2 separate regions of the Homo sapiens genome follow, and region 1 is linked to region 2. The links come from fine-mapping of genetic effects on gene expression. A gene starts in region 2. The other region holds a variant in brackets. All regions are shown on one strand. Distances are between the middles of the regions. Region 1 overlaps ACTR3-AS1 (ACTR3 antisense RNA 1). Region 2 holds the start of ACTR3-AS1 (ACTR3 antisense RNA 1).

Region 1 (9,255 bases), 51 kb after region 2:
ATACTATAGAATCCACAACTTCAGTTTTCATTCTGCCCCACAGCTCAGAGCTGGAAACATATGTGCTTATGAATCTTTGTCAAGTTAATCACTTTTTCCTTTTGCACCAAAAATTTAAAACAGACTTCTTAGCAACTGTCGCTAGCGTAATCTGTTTACTAAAATCATATGATAAATCACACTCGAGGTAAGTTACTGTTGTTCTGTAAGTTCCTGTTACTCTGTTAATTGCTGTCATTTTTTCCCAGAGTTGTGCTCTCCTGCAGCGTTTTGCGGACGGCTGGCTATCTTACCCAGAATCAATCACACTGGGACACTGAAAAAAAAAAAAAAGGAAAGTAAGTAGAGTCAGCTATTTCATCTCTTTGTGAAACGTCTCCCCATTCTCGGCCTGAAACCATAATTTACCTTCCCAACCTTAAGAAAATCTTTTCTGCATTCTGCTACTTCTTGAAAGTTGCCTTTGACCTTCCAGTGGTCTTCTCTCACTTCCATTCTCTTTCAGCCCTGCCAGCATTTGCGAAGATGACTCAGACCCTCTTTACTGAAAGATAACTTATAAAACAACTCACATGTCATGAGCCTCCGCAGAAAAACTTCATTTCCCACTTCAAACCCAAAGTTTCCCTCCTTTAACTATATCCTAATTGGTAATAACAAAAGCACACATTGAACAACGACTTAGATATTGTGCTAAGCACTTTACATATATTAACTCTTCTCACCATCCCAATAACACTATGAAATACAATCTATTGTTATATCCATTTTGATAAATAAGAAAATAGAATCCAGAGAGTTTATGTAATGTGCTCAAGGAAAAACATTGCTCAGTGGCATGCCATTTGGTAATTGGTACCACCAACCATACCATCATTTGTCCACACCAGAAACCTAAGAATCAGGATTAATTGCTTTCTCTCCTGTTCTCTCCACATTCTTACCATCTTAGGCCAAACTACCACCATGTCTCACCCAGACCACTGCACCAGCCTTCCAACTATTTCCATTAATGTTCCTTTATAGACTATTCTCCATATAAATGACATATGAATTTGATAAATCCATAATCATAATGAGAGATTTTTAGAAACCTCTTTTTTTTTTTTTTTTGAGACGGAGTTTCACTCTTATCGCCCAGGCTGGAGTGTAATGGCGTGTAATGGTGCTCTCTGGGCTCACCACAACCTCGGCCTCCCAGGTTCAAGCGATTTCCCTGCCTCAGCTTCCTGAGTAGCTGGGATTACAGGCATGTGCCACCATGCCTGGCTAATTTTGTATTTTTAGTAGAGATGGGGTTTCTCCATGTTGGTCAGGCTGTTCTCAAACTCCTGACCTCAGGTGATCCACCTGCCTCAGCCTCCCAAAGTTCTGGGATTACAGGCATGAGCCACTGTACCTGGCTGGTAAAAACCTCTTTCAAAAACTGACTTCATGCAGACAAAATAGTCATATGACTCAAAAACATTTATTTTTATTGTGCAAATAACACAATTAATGATCCAAATCTTACGGAAATATGTGGAACACTACACACACACACACACACACACAAATAAAGAATACACAACAACACTTAGAACATTTACAAAAATTGGCTGGATGTGGTGGCTCACACCTGTAATCCCAGCACTTTGGGAGGCCGAGGCAGGCGGATCACTTGAGGTCAGGAGTTTGAGACCAGCCTGGCCAACATGGTGAAACCCCATCTCTACTAAAAATACAAAAATTAGCCAGGAATGGTGGCACATGCCTGTAGTCCCAGCTACTCAGGAGGCTGAGACAGGAGAATAGCTTAACCCAGGAGGCGGAGATTGCAGTGAGCCGAGATCGCGCCACTGCATTCCAGCCTGGGTGACAAAGCAAGACTCCATCTGAAAAAAAAAAAGTTTACAAAAATTGACTATGTCTTATGTCTCAAAGTGAGTCAACAAACAACACAGTCATTATTATATAGACCATATTCCCTGATCACAATATAATAAAGTTACAAATCAGGAGCAAAAGGATAGTTAACCCCTCTGTGTGTTAACTCTTCTTTACTCTTCCTCTATAAAAAGGAACTAGCATTTCCCAGCTCCCTTGGTCTCTGGTAACCTGGTAGGCTCTGCAATGGGAAGCACTGACTGCAACCTGGGGAGTCACAGGGGGTAAAGGAAAGATGTTCCCCACTTCCTGTGGGGGGCGCGAGGAGAGGATTCCTTACAGAGAAATTTATATCCCAAAAAGCAAGTTCTAGTTTTGAGCCTCCTCCTCATTTTGCTGACTTCTTTGCACTTTGTTCACCAATCTAACTTTTTTCCTTTCTTTCGCCATTTCTGTATAATTCCTTGATTTTTTATTTATTTATATATATATATATTTTTTGAGGTGGAGTTTCGCTCTTGTCACCCAGGCTGGAGTGCAATGGCACGATCCCGGCTTACTGCAACCTCTGCCTCCCAGGTTCAAGCGATTCTCCTGTCTCAGCCTCCTGAGGAGCTGGGATTACAGGCACCCGCCACTACACCCGGCTAATTTTTGGTATTTTTAGTAGAGACAGGGTTTCACCATGTTAGCCAGGCTGGTCTCGAACTCCTGACCTCAGGTGATCTGCCCACCACGGCCTCCCAAAGTGCTGAGATTACAGGCATAAGCCACTGCTCTGGGCCTCTGATTTTTATACCTCTGTAATGCCCTCTTGAATCCCTTCTCCTCTTTCTATTTTCGTTGTGACTAGTCCTCTGGCCGCTCACCTGGAAAGGCAGAGGAGAGGGTTGTAACTCTGGGAGTTGAATTATAACTAATCTTCTAATGATGGTGTTTAACAAAAGCCATGTTAAAGGCAAAGTGCTTCTGTTTCGAAAAATACTCTCAAACCCAGTTTTCTCTTGGCCCTCACACCACCTCAGCAGCAATCAACAACAAAGAAGAAGACTTCTTTGCCTAAATATGCGGGGAATTTCCCGACTCACATAGCAGCAGACACCAGCTGGATGTCCTCCAATTCAGTTCCGACACTGTCTACCTGGAGATAGCATCAGATTCTATCGGCTTGGGGCTTAGTCCCCAAAACTGCCCATTCCACAGACACCCATTGCAGATGTGGGCCTCTGGGACTTCCGACCAACCAGCTTCAAGCTGGGGTTCCTACACCTTCTCTTTGCGTTCAGTTAATTTGCTAGAGCAGCTCACAGAACTCAGGAAAAAAGTTTACTGGTTTGTTATAAAGGGCATTACAAAGGATACAGACGGAGAGATGCACAGGGTGAGGTATGGGGGAAGAGGCGCGGAACTCCCATCCCCTCCCTTGGCGGTCACCATCCAGGAACCTCCGTGTGTTCAGCTATCTGGAAGCTGCCTGAATCCAGTCCTCTTGGGTTTTTGTGGAAGATTCATGATATCAGCATTTCTTCCCCCGGCTTATAGGGCAGGAGCATCTCTGGAGAGGATCTTAAGACCCGTAGTCAGAAAGGTGGGGTAAGACTAGAGTCCTGCCTTCCAGAAGGTGAAAGAAGGGCAGGAAAAGGTCAGAGAGATTCTGTTTTCTGAATCTGCTCCTGAGGCCTAACACACCCAACCTTATAACGAAAGGTTGTAACGAGGGCTCTGGGAGATATGGTCCAGGAACTGTGGACGGAAATGTGTGTGTGTGTGTGTGTGTGTGTGTGTGTGTGTGTGTGTGTGTGTGTATAAAATAACACCACAGCTTCCTAGCCAGAAAGAAGAGGAGGCCGACCTTGACTGTAATGTCTTAATGCTGTTAACACAACTGAGAAAAACAAGTGTCAATCAGATGGGGCATTGGTAACTGGAAAACAACAGCAAAGGCTAAGGCCAGCGGGTCTGGTCAAGTTAGTTCAGGATGCCTCTCTGTTGTGATTATTTTGTTGGATTTAACTTCTCTAGAACCAAACGTAACCGGTCTCTACATTTCTGGCAATCTCACACCGTTCCTTCAGTGATCCATGCTCGAAATGCATAAATGATCGCTGACTCTTCTTCCCCTGTAGTCCTCATTATCTACTTGATTGAGCCTTTTTGACGCTTACTCATTTTTTTTCTCTTCCCTCCTCCCAGCCAACCATAATTTCAGGTGCTTATTAAAACACACTCAGATTAATCCCCCCAATTAGACCTCTTTGCCTCTTCCTGACCCTCCCAAGGGTCCTGCCCTACTATTAGGTAATGACATAAGACCCAGGAATAAGTATAAGGATTCCCACTGGCCTCCATCCTGGTATTTAAAACAGGCACAGTGCTCACACCTGTAATTCCAGCACTTTGGGAGGCCAAGGCTGGGGGACTGCTTGAGTCCAGGAGTTCAAGGCCAGCCTGGGCAACACAGGGAGAACTCCTCCCCCCACATCTCTACAAAAAAATAAATTGAAAACAAAAAACAAAACTAGCCATTTGTAGTTCCCAACTACTTAGCAGGCTGAGGTGGGAGGATTGTTTGAGCCTGGGAGGTCAAGGCTGCAGTGAGCCATGATTGCACCACTGCACCCAGCCGGGTGAAAGAGTGAGACCCTGTCTTAAAAATAAATAAATTAATGAATTAAACAAAACAGGCCTCACTTTCCTCAGGGAACCCTGGATC[C/G]TCTCCCTACCCCGGACACAGTAGGTTCAGTTGGGTGAGTTCTCTGCTTTCCTCTAAACATGTTATGCTCACACTTGGCCCCCAGGGTTTGCACTCAGGGTGCCCAACTCACAGCCATACTGCAAAGTCCCATTTCCTCCTTGAGTCCTTTGCTGATATGCCCTGGTTTACACTGATTCCTACCCTGGCTTTCTTTAGACCCAAAGACATTTAGGCAAGGGCGGATGGGCCATGTTGCTAAGGAGGCTTACACTTGAGGGCCCCTTAACTTGGACAGTCCCCTCCAAGACTGTGTGGCTAATTTTTATTTATAATTTTGTATTGTCTTAAGAAGATCATTTAAATTGTAAAAGCCTCAGGCCCCACGCAATCTGGGTCTGTCCCTGAATTTAGACATTAATTTATATTCTTTTCTTGAAGGATTTTCTAACTGGTTAATGTACAACAAACCTGTTTTCTCAACTTAGTATGAGCTTCTTTGCTAAATAATGCTGTGCAGTATACAGTGTGGTGGTTGAAAGGGTCATCAGTAGAGTCCCACAGACCTGTGTCCAAAGGTCACTTCTGCCGTTTCCTAGAGATGTGGCTTTTGGGCAAGTTTAAATTTTCATCTTCATTGATCTTCAGCTTCCTCAGCTGTTAAATGGGAATGATTATGGTGAAGCTTGCATTATGACTTTCAGAGGCCCAAGGAACTTTTGCCTTCATAGGCCCCTTTCTCCATGAAAATGATTACCAACTATATTTTGTGACTGTGTTGGTAAAAAGGCTAATATAATTCAACAGGGATTCTGTTCTTTTTTTTTCCTTTCTGATGCTAAAATAAACAAAAACATTTTCATGAGCCCCTAATAGTGTCATGGACCCTTGACATAGTGCCTAGTGAGCCTAATGGATAAGTTGACCCTGATTATAGAGCACACAGAGAAGCCTGGTGAATAATAAATGAGACAGTGTACATACAACATTCGACAAAGTGCTGGTGTGTATTAGGTGTTCAGCGGACGTCAGATATTACTTTTGTTATTATTATATGCCTCTTTCATATAGAAATGCTTACTAAATGGGATTGAATAGAGCTTATTTTACACTAAACCATTTGTAGCAATGGGAGTTTGGAAACAGATATCACTTTCTTATATATTATTATAGAATGTCAATTAAAGCTTTTCTGCTTCCCGACTTGGTACCCATCCTGTATTTACAAGCAGTTATTGCCTACGGACCAGGTGCTTAGATGTCTTGAATTTCAACAGAGCTCCTTAAACACTAGGTTCCCAAGCTCCACTCAAGAGATTCTGACTCAGTGGCTCTGGAGGGAGATCTGAAAATAAGTACTTAAAAAAATCTTACTCCCTTGGTGATTTTGAAGAGCAGCTAAATTTGTTGGAAACCACTATCATAGGCAAGCCGGTAGAGGTCAGTGACAGCTGAAAGAGTGGTATACGGGGGCATTAGCTTACCTCTTCCTAAACTCTGTAACACTCACCCTCAATCACTGCAAATAAAATGAAGTGTCTGCTATGCAAATGCAGCTTCCAGACAAGTCCCCTACGCACTCCCTTCCCAATCAGATTGTACCACTAGCCCCCCTTAGTAAAGTAATTTTGGAGCAGTCTGCAGAAGAGATATAATTCATATTGTAGCTTTCAAGGAACTTCCAGGATAGAGATCAACACAAAACCAAGGTAGCATACTTTTAAGATTTTAAGGACCAAATGGGTACTGTGGACATTGAGCACTCAGAAGAGGAAGCAATCATGATAGACTGAGTTGCTGGGGGAGCCTCAAAGTGAAGAGTGACTTATGTTGAATCATGAAAGAAGGTGGACCTGAGACATTGAGACACGAAAAAAAGAATAATAGACTGGGGGTTAGGGGATGCAGGAATAAAACTGGCTTTGCCACACGCTAGCTGGGTGTCTTTGAAAATGAAGATATGAAAAAATGTAAACCTGTCAACACCTATTCCAAACAAGAGAAACCTGGTATAAAAATGCTAATATTTGCAAAAATACAATTTAAGACAAAAAAGCATTATTAAGAATAAAGAGGGGGCCGTGTGCGGTGGCTCACACCTGTAATCCCAGCACTTTGGGAGGCCGAGGCGGGCAGATCACAAGGTCAAGAGATCGAGATCATCCTGGCTAATATGGTGAAACCCTGTCTCTACTAAAAATACAAAAAATTAGCCGTGCCTGTAGTCCCAGCTACTTGGGAGGCTGAGGCAGGAGAATTGTTTGAACCCAGGAGGCGGAGGTTGCAATGAGCCAAGATTGCGCCACTGCGCTCCAGCCTGGGCAACAGAGCGAGACTCCGTCTAAAAAAAATAAAAAATAAAAAAATAAAGAGGGATACAACACCCTGATAAGGAACAGTTCACCAAGAGGATAGAATCATCATGTACTTGTATGCACTAAAAAAAGAAAAAATGTCCTGGAATATGTTAATTCTCAAACTGGGAGAATTGACACATGCACATCAGATAATGATGGATGAACTATTTAAAACATAATAAGGACAAAGAATAAGTGATTTGAACAAGAAGGAAAAACCAAGGCACAGAGCAATGAAATAACTTGCCCAAGGTCTTGTAGCTAGTAAGTGAAGAGCTGGGATCCAGACCCAGGAAATCTGCTTTTATGCCACCCTCAGCTAAAGTTTCATCTTGAGTGATAGAGCCTTAAAATGTGTTTACACCAAAAAGAAATATTAAGGATAAGTCAATTAAGCATTTAATATACAATTCAAGAAGTTAGAAAAGAAAGAAGAGGCCGGGCGCAGTGGCTCAAGCTTGTAATCCCAGCACTTCGGGAGGCTGAGGTGGGCAGATCACGACCTCAGGAGTTTGAGACCAGCCAGGCCAAAATGGTGAAACCTCTTCTCTACTAAAAATACAAAAATATTAGCTGGGCATGTTGGCCCGTGCCTGTAATCCCAGCTACTTAGGAGGCTGAGGCCGGAGAATCGCTTGAACCTGTGAGACGGAGCTTGCAGTAAGCCGAGATCATGCCACTACACTCCAGCTTGGGCGACAGAGCGAGACTCCATCTCAAAAAAAAAAGAAGAAAAGAAAAGAAAGAAGAAATATCCAAAAGGAAAGAGAATGCAAAGTAAAAACAAGAATAAAAAAGAAGCTGGGCACAGTGGATCACACCTGTAATCCCAGCACTTTGGGAGGCTGAGGGAGGGCAGATCTCTGGAGCCTAGGAGTTGGAGACCAGCCTGGGCAACATGGCGAAAACCCATCTCTACAAAAATTACAAAATTAGCCAGGATGGGAGACATGCATGTATGGTTCCAGTTACTCGGGAGGCTGAGGTGGGAGGATCACCCAAGTGCAGGAAGTTGAGGCTGCAGTGAGCCATGAAAATGGTAACTATGTGAGGTGATGGATATGTCAATTAATTTTGTTGTGGTGATCATTTTACAATCACATATTGATATATGTATCAATATGTTTTGATACATATATCAAAACATCAAGGCCAGGTGTGGTGGCTCACACGTGTAATTCTAGCATTTTGGGAGGCTGAGGTGGGAGGCTTGCTTGAGCCCAGAAGTTGGAGACCAACCTGGGCAACATAGTGAGACCCTGTCTCTATAAATAAATAAATAAATAAAATAATAAGAAAGTTTGAAGGGTCATTTTGTTTTATAGTATACATATAATCATATAACTTTGCTATTTGCATATGGAGGGCGACAGTGAATATTCATTATCAAGAAGGGCTTTGGATTCAGAAAAGGTCGGATTTTTTATTCCAATTGAAAATGGTCTGGAAATACACATGCACAGTTGTTTGTCCTCGTTCACTGTCTCTTTCTTTCTCTCTCTCTCTCTTTTTTTTTTTTTTTTTGAGACGGATTTCACTCTGTTGCCAAGGCTGGAGTGCAGTGGCACAGTCTCGGCTCACTGCAACCTCTGCCTCCCAGGTTCAAGGGATTCTCCTGCCTCGGCCTCCCGAGTAGTTAGGATTACAGGCATGTGCTGCCACGCCCAGCTAATTTTGCATTTTAGTAGAGACAGGGTTTCTCCATGTTGGTCAGGCTGGTCTCAACCTCCCAACCTCAGGTGATCCGCCCGCCTCGGCCTCCCAAAGTGCTGGGATTACAGGCATGAGCCACCGCCTCCCACCTGCAGTTGGCTGTTTGTTGTTTTTTTGTTTCTTTGTTTTGTTTTTTTATGCTGCCCCGCCCCCTCTGGTTCTTTGTTTTACAGAAAAAAACAGGCCCAAATTGAAGGCTATTCTTTGACATAACTGGCCAACACTCTTCAAAAATGTTAATGTTGTGAAAATAAAGATTGAGAAACCATTAATGCTAATTTCCTGATATTAATCATTGAATATTTATTATTAATTAGTCTGAAACTATGTTATAATAGTTACTACGTATACATAGACTATGTAGAAACTTTGTGCTCCATTGCTAACAGAGTGCACATTGATGCAATTTCCCTGAAGGATAATTTGGCAATACCCTTCAAAAGCAGAAACGTACATACTTTTTGATCAAAAATTCCGCTTATAAGCAATTGTCCTACAGAGTTGGTTTCACATGTGTGAAATGGTTTAAATAAAATTGCGTATTCATTATAAGGGCAGCAGGCCAGGCGTAGTGGCACAAACCTGTAATTTCAGCACTTTGGGAGGCCGAGGTGGGCAGATCACTTG
Region 2 (9,255 bases):
GAAGCAACACATAAAGTTCTGAAAAGGCAGTCAGGAGTCCCCGGAGTGTTAACAGAAAGAACACAGGACTTAAATACAGAACTCAGGTCCAAATAGCAGATCGAACCACCTGCCAGGTAGACGGCATCAAAAAGGTAATTTAAATTCTCTCATTCTGTTTTTTCACTTATAAAATTAGGTTAAAAAATAGCTGTCACAGAAAGCATGGCCAGCAGGTCCTCCACAGGACCTTTCCGTTCTGTGCCTAAAATTCTGAACTGTGTTTTACAATAAGCCTGAAAGTTCGTTCACCGCAATATAGTATTTGCAATCCAAAGTCAATATTTCAACACAAAATTGGCAGGCAGGAAAGGAGGGAGAGTCTTTCGCTAAGTCTAAGTAAGAGTCTGACTTCTCACTAGGAGCATGTCTGTTGTACTTACTTCAAACAGCATGCAAAGCATGACTCATCAAGGAATAAGAATTTCAATGAGTGCTTTTTGGTTAAGAAGCTATTGTGAATATTTCTGCCTTTGGAGATGGCTAAAGAAATAGCATTATTAAGCCGGTGCAGTGGCTCATGTCTGTAATCCCAGCACTCTGGGAGGATGAGGTGGGTGGATCACCTGAGGTCAGGAGTTCAACAACAGCCTGGCCAACATGGTGAAACTCTGTCTCTACTAAAAATACAAAATTTAGCTGGGCGTGGTAGTGGGCGCCTATAATCCCAGCTACTTGGGAGGCTGAGGCAGAAAATCACCTGAACCCAGGAGGCAGAAGGAGGTTGCAGTGAGCCAAGATCATGCCACTGCACTCCAGCCTGGGCGATGAGAGCAAAACTCCATCTCAAAAAAAAAAAAAGAAACAGCATTATTATTAAACAATACGCACAGAATTCATGGAAGAAACATGAACTTCCCACATATACCTTCCTTCATTTACCCAGCTTTTCCCCACTGCTCTTCAAACAAGATCATTCTTATCTGCACTAATTGCTGAATTGTGGCCACAAGATGAACATACTCCTCTTTCACTGACACCTACAAGATATTTAAGCTTACATTTTAAGATTGCTAAGAAGTTGAAGTCAGTTAGCAAAATTCCTTAATCTGCTCCAGATATGAATATATCCAAGACTTTGACCATAGGGCTATATTAACCTCTGCTATCATAATCAGTGGAACTAATTTACCAATATTTTATTTACCAGGGGAAAAAAAAAGACATAAAAGGGAAAAGGAAATTCACAATGCAGCTCTGTAACCAAGCTACGATATAACAAGGAGTTAATAAGGAGCGCCCTCATTTGGCTTGAATGATGGAGAAACTTGAGTAAAAACATGCATTTAAAAAAAACCTTTAAGGCTGGGCGCGGTGGCTCACACCTGTAATCCCAGCACTTTGGGAGGTTGAGGCGGGTGGATCACGAGGTCAGGAGATGGAGACCATCCTGGTCAACATGGTGAAACCCCATCTCTACTAAAAAGAGAAAAATTAACTGGGTGTGGTGGCATGTGCCTGTAGTCCCAGCTACTCGGGAGGCTGAGGCAGGAGAATAGCTTGAACCTGGGAGGTGGAGGTTGCAGTGAGCCGAGATCGTGCCACTGCACTCCAGCCCAGCGACAGGGCAAGACTCCATCTCAAAACAAACAAACAAACAAACAAAAAAACAAAAAGCAAAAAACACATTTAAAAAACGATCCCTTCCACCGCCCAGAAAAAAAAAAACCTTAGGATGATCATACAAGTGTTACAATGTTTTTTTAAAAAATGTTTGTGAATGCCTTTTAAAGAAAATGCTTTTCTCACCACTAATAGCAGGTTTGAGTTCTGTTATTTAGTTTTCAAGCCACCAATGGGAATCTATGTGCCCCAACTGTATTTTACAATGCTTTCCAATACAGACCAAAAAAGTGTGTAGATAAGGGTATCAATGTGAATGAAGCATTTCTTTTCAAATTCTTTTCAAAATAAGTATTCTCTTTTATGACCTGAATCTAGGTGATTCATATGTTGAGTTTTGCTGGACGATCCCTAAAAGTTTTGGGCTTAAGTTTCAAGTTTCCTAACTCTTAACAGCTTTCCTATCTAAGACGATCAAGTTTTACAGATGGCCACTTTTTTTCAGCCACCTTTCCCCTAATTTATATAATGAATGAAATGAGCAACCTGATTCAGGTTATAACTTTTTACTTAAACTAAGTGAGTAATTGTAATTTAGAGACCTCAGAGCTGAATGCATTCTCTAAAGCATAAAAAAAATTAGACAAATTACAGGTGCACAATTTGCATTCGGGGACCACAGAATTTTGAAATGTAAAAGCTCCCTGTTAAGGCCATACTTAGAGATGTTTATCTCAGGGTCCTCAACCTCAAGGACTTATCCTCCATGTGCAAATAAAGCTGAAGGTGTAACTTCCCAGGAGGCACCACTGGAAACTTGTAAGACCAAAAAGGCTTTTGAGAACCAAAATAACTGAAACTCTAAAGGGGGAATTTCAGATTGTGACAAATGGTAAAAGAGAGTGAGGTGGCAAGGGGACTCCTAATCAGTTCCATTCAAATCATCAATGTGCAGTTAATAACCTCTCCTTATTGGAGAAACCAATGTAATAACTTAAAAATACACTATTGTGATAATCGTAATTTTAAAACAGAAATAGCCTAGGTTAAATTGAACCCCTCTTCCCGATCCTACTGGTCATTCAGCATGTTTTAAATTCAAGGTTGCCCTTTAGGAAAGGAGGTCACTTAAGGACAGTTTATCTCAATGAAACATCTTGTATACTAATTCGAAACTATTTCAAAAGGGGGAAAATGGAGATTAGAAAAGTAACATACTACTTGAGATGTTACCATATTATTTCTCAGGGCCACAATTATTTACACTATTTTTTTGAAAACGCAGTAATTTCTAAAGCATTAATTATGTAGCAATATTCGTCACTTTAACAAAACACATTTGAAAAGTCCTATCCTACTGACTCAGGCCAAATCTAATTTTAAAACTGAACCTAGACATAAAAATACTCACCAATTAGACTAAGAAGGGAGAAATAAAAAAAATTATTGGTTCAGAGAAATGAGACTGAATTAAGGAAAAACTTTTAAATAAAGTGTTCATCAAAAAAATACATAGAAGTTCCAAGGCTAGTGTTTTCCTAGGAGAATATTAAGAAGTTGGTGGTTTCTCTCTACCTAACTGGGATTTTAGAAACTGCCACACTAGCTAGTTATGAGAATGAAGATTAAAGAAATTTCACATAAAGAGTGAAGGACACACAATCTTTTAAGTAACAATAATGAAATCAATAATTATAATTAATAATAAAAAAAAAAGCCTGACAGTCCACCTCTTACTGACTTCCCCCTCAAAAAAAAAAAACTGGGAGTGTTCTGGGAATTGGAGAGATGTCATCAGCACAGAAAAAAAAACCACTTTCCTATATGTCATCCTGAAGCAGTGATTCTACATAAAAATAAGGGTAGTCTATTCTCTATGCAGTTATGAGTGTGGTACAACTCTCTAAAACGTCTATTAATACAAAATGAACGACCACACTTTAAAGCCACTCTACATTTTCGCAAACTACCCTACATATCTACGAGTAACTATTTGCAACTTAAACACCCTCCTATATACCTCTATACCTTCCTGCTTCCTTCAAGATACCATCACAGAATGAACGAATACAACTTAAATTAGTTTATTTTCCAGGGTGCTTCCTTTCCCCCACTCCATGAAACATAAGTACATTTTTTTAAGTCATATAAATGGACACCAAGCACCGGTAATTCAGTCTCTTTAAAACCTGCTTAAAAGTTCTAGTAAGATGTGCTCAGGTTGGAAACTAAAAACTACCTTATAAGGGTATAAAAGACTGAAAGCAGGAAGCGGCTTTGACAAAACTAAGGAAGTTGCAGCGCGCTTGCTCACTGGGGGACTTTTTTGAGGCTACAGAAGTAACACATGACATCTTTCTCCCTCGAATTAAAATGTGACTTGGTTCACCGGTTAAAACGCAGAGGGAGATGGAAATGACCAGGAGTCGAAAGGAGAAGGTGGGTGGTCAAATGAAAGCCCCACTGTAGGTTCCCATTTTCAGAGTCCGATTCTTCCCTTTCCCCACCCACACCCTGGGCAGAATGTTGTCACAGCGATCTTGTCAAACCTACCAGGAGCGCTTCTCTTTTCTAGCTCCCCTGCCAGGCCAGTCCCCGAGCTCGGCCCCTGGGTCCCCAAACCGACTGGCAAAAACGGGCGCGGAGGGAAAGGAAAGCCGGATGGGTCGGGCCCGGGGACCACCCCCAAGACGACCGTCCCCAGCGCCCTTTGGGCGGCGCTGCCCACCGTAGTGGGGGAAGGGCCGGGAGGGGTCGCGCGGAGAAAGCCGCTGGGAGGGTTGGGGGTTGAATCTCGGGCCCGCGCCCCCGCCCCAGTCCCAGGAGGGAGAAACGAGGGGACCCGCGAGGCCCTGGCTGCGGGCCCCACCCCTCGCTGGCCGGCGGGTCTAGGACTGACAGCCGGCGGCGGCACCTCGCCGCACCATTCATTTCCCGGCCTCCTCCCTCCCCCGCCATCTTCCTTCCTCCGCCTCAGTTTCCCCACCCCCGCCCGTAAGCCCCCTTACCCCGTGCCACAGTCCACCACACAGGCCGGCAGCCGTCCCGCCATCTTCCTCCTCGCCTGCTGCTGCTGCTGCCGCCGTCTGCTCCGTGCTGCTAGGGGCCAGAGATTGGCGGCGGGAGACAAGGGCTATCTGACCATCCACAGCTGGGCCGCCTTCACCGTCCGGGGGGTAGCCGGGAAGCCGAAGCAGTAGCAAGAAAGCAGCAGGCTCGGTCGGCGGCTATCACTTCCGCAACCCAGGCAGGCAGGCAGTCCCCGCCCTGCCCCGCCGCGGCCTCCTCCCCCTCTCTCTTCCCTCCTCCTCACTCCTGCCCCCACCCTACAACTTCTTCCCCTCACGCCGCCTTTCCCCGGGAAGCCAAGATGGCCGCCGGTGCCGACGCCCCGGCCAGGCCAGGCCCAGGCCCCCAGCGCTCCCCCTTCCGCTCCGAGCGGGAGGGGCTAGCGAGCATGCGCAATAAGGTACGTTCGCCTGCCTGGGCTCCGATCCTGAAGTTGGTGAAATCCACTGCGGGTTTTCCAGGAGTGTAGAGGCGGAGAAGTCTATCCGAGCTTCCAGTTCTGCTTCTGAAGCTGGAAGGGGCTTTTCGGTTGTAACCCTTGGGTTAGTTTCAGTTACTTCTTTGCTAGGTTGAGGAAAGGGTGGAAGCGCCTCCTGCAGCCACGAATATCCTCCAGTGCCTGAGAGAAAACGGCCTAATCGAAAACGTCCGCGGCATACATCCATTCTTAAAACTTGAGTGGCTGCTTTTCTGGGTGGAAAAGAGCGGTATCAGACAGGGTGAGCAGTCGGGGAACGGATGAACAAAGACTTGCACCGTGGCCCTGATGCCTTTGTTCCGAGTTCTATTCAGTTGTACTTGTGCGTTGTTACAGGACTTTAGAATGCAGCCCTGCCCCCCAACCCCCACCTCCCAGGGCCGACCTGTGCTCCTAGGAAGGCAAACCTCCCAGGAATATATTCTGCATAACTATACAAATAGGCCTTTATTCAAGGCTTTTGGATTATGACAAAGATTACCCTCAGGAGTAGTAAGATTCTACTAGCAGGATAATAGAAAGGATTAAGGCTCCCCTCCAAAGAAAATTTTTTTAAGTTAGAAACGGAGGCGAGCCGCAGTGGGTCATGCCTGTAATTTCAATGCTTTGGAAGGCCGAGGTGGGAGGATAGGATAGCTTGAGGCTAGGAGTTCGAGACCAGCCTGGGCAACATGGGGAGACCCCCCCCCATCCCTCCAAAAAAGAAAAGAAAACTGGAAAGCCTTAAAGAAACCTTTCAAACTTTAGTGTGTATCAGAATTACCTGAAAGGTTTGTTAAAACAGATTGCTGGGCCATACCCCCAGAATTCTCTGACTGGGCTATCGGAAATAATGCCTGAGAATGTGCATATCTAATAAGTTCCTAGTTCCACTTTAGGACCCTAGAAGGTTAGTATCTTTCCTCTCTACCAGGCTTATCTTAGGATGAACCGTTCGGGGTTTGCTGATGTGAAGCTAAAACAAAAATATTCTTTAAAAGGAGGGATGTCTTATTCAGTCCATAAGATCATCTAATGTATTAAGCTGGCTTGGGGGATGAATCGGGTGTTTCATTCATTCATTTGACAGGTAAGCATTGCTTACCTACTCTATTATGACGGGGTCTGTGCTGACTCCGAATATTCGGTGGGATGCAAAATAGTTAAGTGCTCTTGTAGAGTTTACAGATTAGCGGAAAACAGACAAATTGTGTTAAGAGCAATAGAAAGAAGAGAGCGGAGGACTCTGAGAAATGAAGGCGAGGAGTGGGAGAATGAGAGGAAGGTGGAAGGCAGGTAAGGAGTCTGACCAGCTGGTATTTAAAAGCTAAGATGGGGGGAAGAGTCTCCCAGGAGAGTGAACAGCAAGTGTCAAGGACCTGAGGCAGGAACAAGCTTGGCTTCTTCCACAAATTGAAAGAAGATCCATATGAAAGAGTCAGAGAAGATGCAATGGGAGATGAAGACTGAGAGATAAGGAAGAGTGAAACAGTGCAAGAATTTGTAGACTGCTCTAAGCATTTTAAAGTTTATCTTAAAAGCAGCTTGATAAATTAGATTTATGGTAATTAGTTTAAAAATAAAAATAAAGCAACTTGAAAGGATTTAGGCAAGAAAAAGTTGTGTCTGCTTTGTAGAGAATGGCTCCAGCAGAGTCCAGATTGAATCATACATTGTATGATATTCTGTGTTCCGGAGTTCGCAGATAGAAGTATGTGAGGGCCAGCATCCAAATGGAATCAGGTATGTGCAGAGGAGACTCACTAAAGGGCATCATCATCAATTAGTGCCCAGCATGTCTGCAGCTATTCACGAGAGAAGGCTTTTTTTAGAGGTTGTTTTCAGAGAAGTCAAACAACTGGTTGTCTCAGATTCGTTGTCGTTGGTTTCTCCACTACATTTTAGAAGATGCTAGATGGGGACTCTTTGCTGCCGCTTCTACTACCTGGTAATTAAAGTCTTTTGAGGAAGCATATGCTTGAAGATTGGCTCTGACAGAAAAGACAGATGTGGTTTAGTAGGGGTAGAATAAATGGTTGTTTCCAGCAGTTACAAGTAGTAAGTCAGGAGTGAAGAGATCCTACCAAAGAAGTTTCGAGAGCAGAGGTTAGTGCCCTCGGTCACTTGGGCAGCCCATGCCGGTGGCCCTCAAGGTAGCTGCCCACACTCTGGCCTTGCACAGTTGTCATGGAAGTAGTTAACTCAAGCAGGGTTGGAAACTAGTGCTTCGAGGTCTAGGCAGGTACTGTTATGAGTGAAGGGGGCCATGAGGAGGGTATGGCAATGTGAGAGCCCACAACCCAACAGAAGGCAACAGACAACTGTTGCCATGTGGAAATACAGCCCTGGTATTGCCAGAGCCTTTTTTCTTCCCCAAGAGAAATCTGAAATCTGCATTTTTATCTTTGGTAACTGTAATGGTTTGAATGTGTTCCCCAAAGTTCATGTGTGAGAAATATAATTTCCAGTGCAACAGTGCTGAGAGGTGGGAGCTTTAAGAGGTGATTAGGCCAGGAGGACACTGTCTTCATGAATGAATCACAGGACTGGGTGCCTGATAAAAAGGAGTTTGCCCCCGCTTCCCTCTCTCTCTTTTGCCCATGTGATGCCTTCCACCATGTTTTGACACAGCAGGGACGCCTTCACGAGATGATGGCCCTTTGATCTTGGACTTCCCAGCCTCTAAAACTATGAAAAATAATTTGTGTTCTCTATAAAGTACCCAGTCTCTGATATTCTGTAAGCAGCACAAACTAGGCTAAGATAGTAACTAATTTTTTTCTGCATGTCATATCTGACCTGTGGTCTGCCAGTTTGCATCTTTTGATTTCGGAAGCTACATGTGGTTCAGTAGTTTGCTGCCTTCAAATATGAAGCTCATGTCAGTGCTAAGTACTGTCTCTCATTTCATAGGCATGAGGAAACTGTCACAGTCTCACATAGTCAAGACTGTCCTGTGTTTGTACAGGCAGTAACTGTTAGAAGCATTTGGAAGCTTTCAGTGCTTGTTGGAAATGTCATTGGTGCTCATTCCTCATAATCTTGTCTACCCAAACACTTTGCTTGCTTAAGATCCCTTCTACTTCCTGCTTGCTGCATGCCAAATTGGTCAGCCTCTCTGCTACTGTGGTGGCCCAGCCTTCCTCAGCTGCACATAGCCTTCAGTCACACATCCGGCCAAAGCATTTCTGACCACCCTGTTTGCATATGCACCCACTCCCTGCTTACTCATCTCCAAACACAGAAGCAAAGGATGTCAGAGACAGTTCATCCTTCATTTCATATTTGTCCCTAATAGCACCTCAATTTCCTTTCAGTTCAGGTCAACCCGGTCCTTGGTTCTTACCCATTTCCAAACCTGTTCCGAAACTTTCAAGCATTTGTGAGTCTTGCAGTATCCTTCTCCTGTGGCTCAAGTTAGCCACAGCAAGTTCCCATTACTTGCATCAAATTTGAGAAGCCTTAGTGGTACAGAAGCCCATAGAGTTTAAGTGAGTTTTCCCAATATCTTTTTCTTTTTTTTTTTGAGATGGAATCTTGCTCTGTCGCCCAGGCTGGAGTGCAGTGTAGTGCGATCTCGGCTCACTGCAAGCTCTGCCTCCTGGGTTCATGCCATTCTCCTACCTCAGCCTCCTGAGTAGCTGGGACTACAGGCGCCCGCCACCATACCCGGCTAATTTTTTTTTTTTTTTTTTGTATTTTTTGTAGAGACGGGGTTTCACTGTGTTAGCCAGGATGGTCTCAATCTCCTGACCTCGTGATCTGCCCGCCTCGGCCTCCCAAAGTGCTGGGATTACAGGTGTGAGCCACCACTCCCGGCCCCCAATATGTTAAAGAAACTAAGGAACAGAAGTCCAAGTCAAAATCCAGTTCTTACGCCTTTTGGGGGGCTCTTTAATTGTAACGACAAATTAGCAAATTGTCTTTGGATCTTAAAAAGTGTCCAGGAAATTTATGTCACTCAATTTCCATTATTTTAAGATGAGAAATAGTATTTTAAAAATCAACTTAGGTACGTACTACAGGGCTGACTGTTTGCAAATTGGCAGATGAATCAGATTCACAGAGAGCCTTAATTCAGAGCAGGTAAGTTGTAAAAGTACCCCAAGCAGCCTAGTGGTCAGAGG

The links. PIP is the estimated chance that this variant, and not a neighbour inherited with it, causes the effect. A credible set is the group of variants that fine-mapping cannot tell apart.
Region 1: its variant is the best candidate, but not a certain one, in a credible set for the expression of ACTR3-AS1 in Th2 cells (Schmiedel 2018, PIP 0.51).

What each region holds. Positions count from the first base shown.
Region 1 is chr2:113,834,347-113,843,601 of GRCh38, reverse strand. ACTR3-AS1 (ACTR3 antisense RNA 1) reads left to right here. Exons shown (of 5, transcript NR_110174.1): 3 at 249-338. Among named protein-coding and RNA genes, the nearest start is that of ACTR3, 51 kb to the left of the region's middle. The variant C/G (reference allele first, on the strand shown) is at 4,580.
Region 2 is chr2:113,885,679-113,894,933 of GRCh38, reverse strand. ACTR3-AS1 (ACTR3 antisense RNA 1) reads left to right here and starts at 3,942. Exons shown (of 5, transcript NR_110174.1): 1 at 3,942-4,041. ACTR3 (actin related protein 3) reads right to left here and starts at 4,845. Exons shown (of 12, transcript NM_005721.5): 1 at 4,611-4,845. The coding sequence starts at 4,654. LOC124906071 (a long non-coding RNA gene) reads left to right here and starts at 5,167. Exons shown (of 3, transcript XR_007087205.1): 1 at 5,167-6,871. RefSeq lists enhancers at 3,905-4,084, 4,135-4,184, 4,267-4,922, 4,955-5,044, 5,165-5,474 and 2 more and silencers at 4,315-4,574, 4,815-4,874.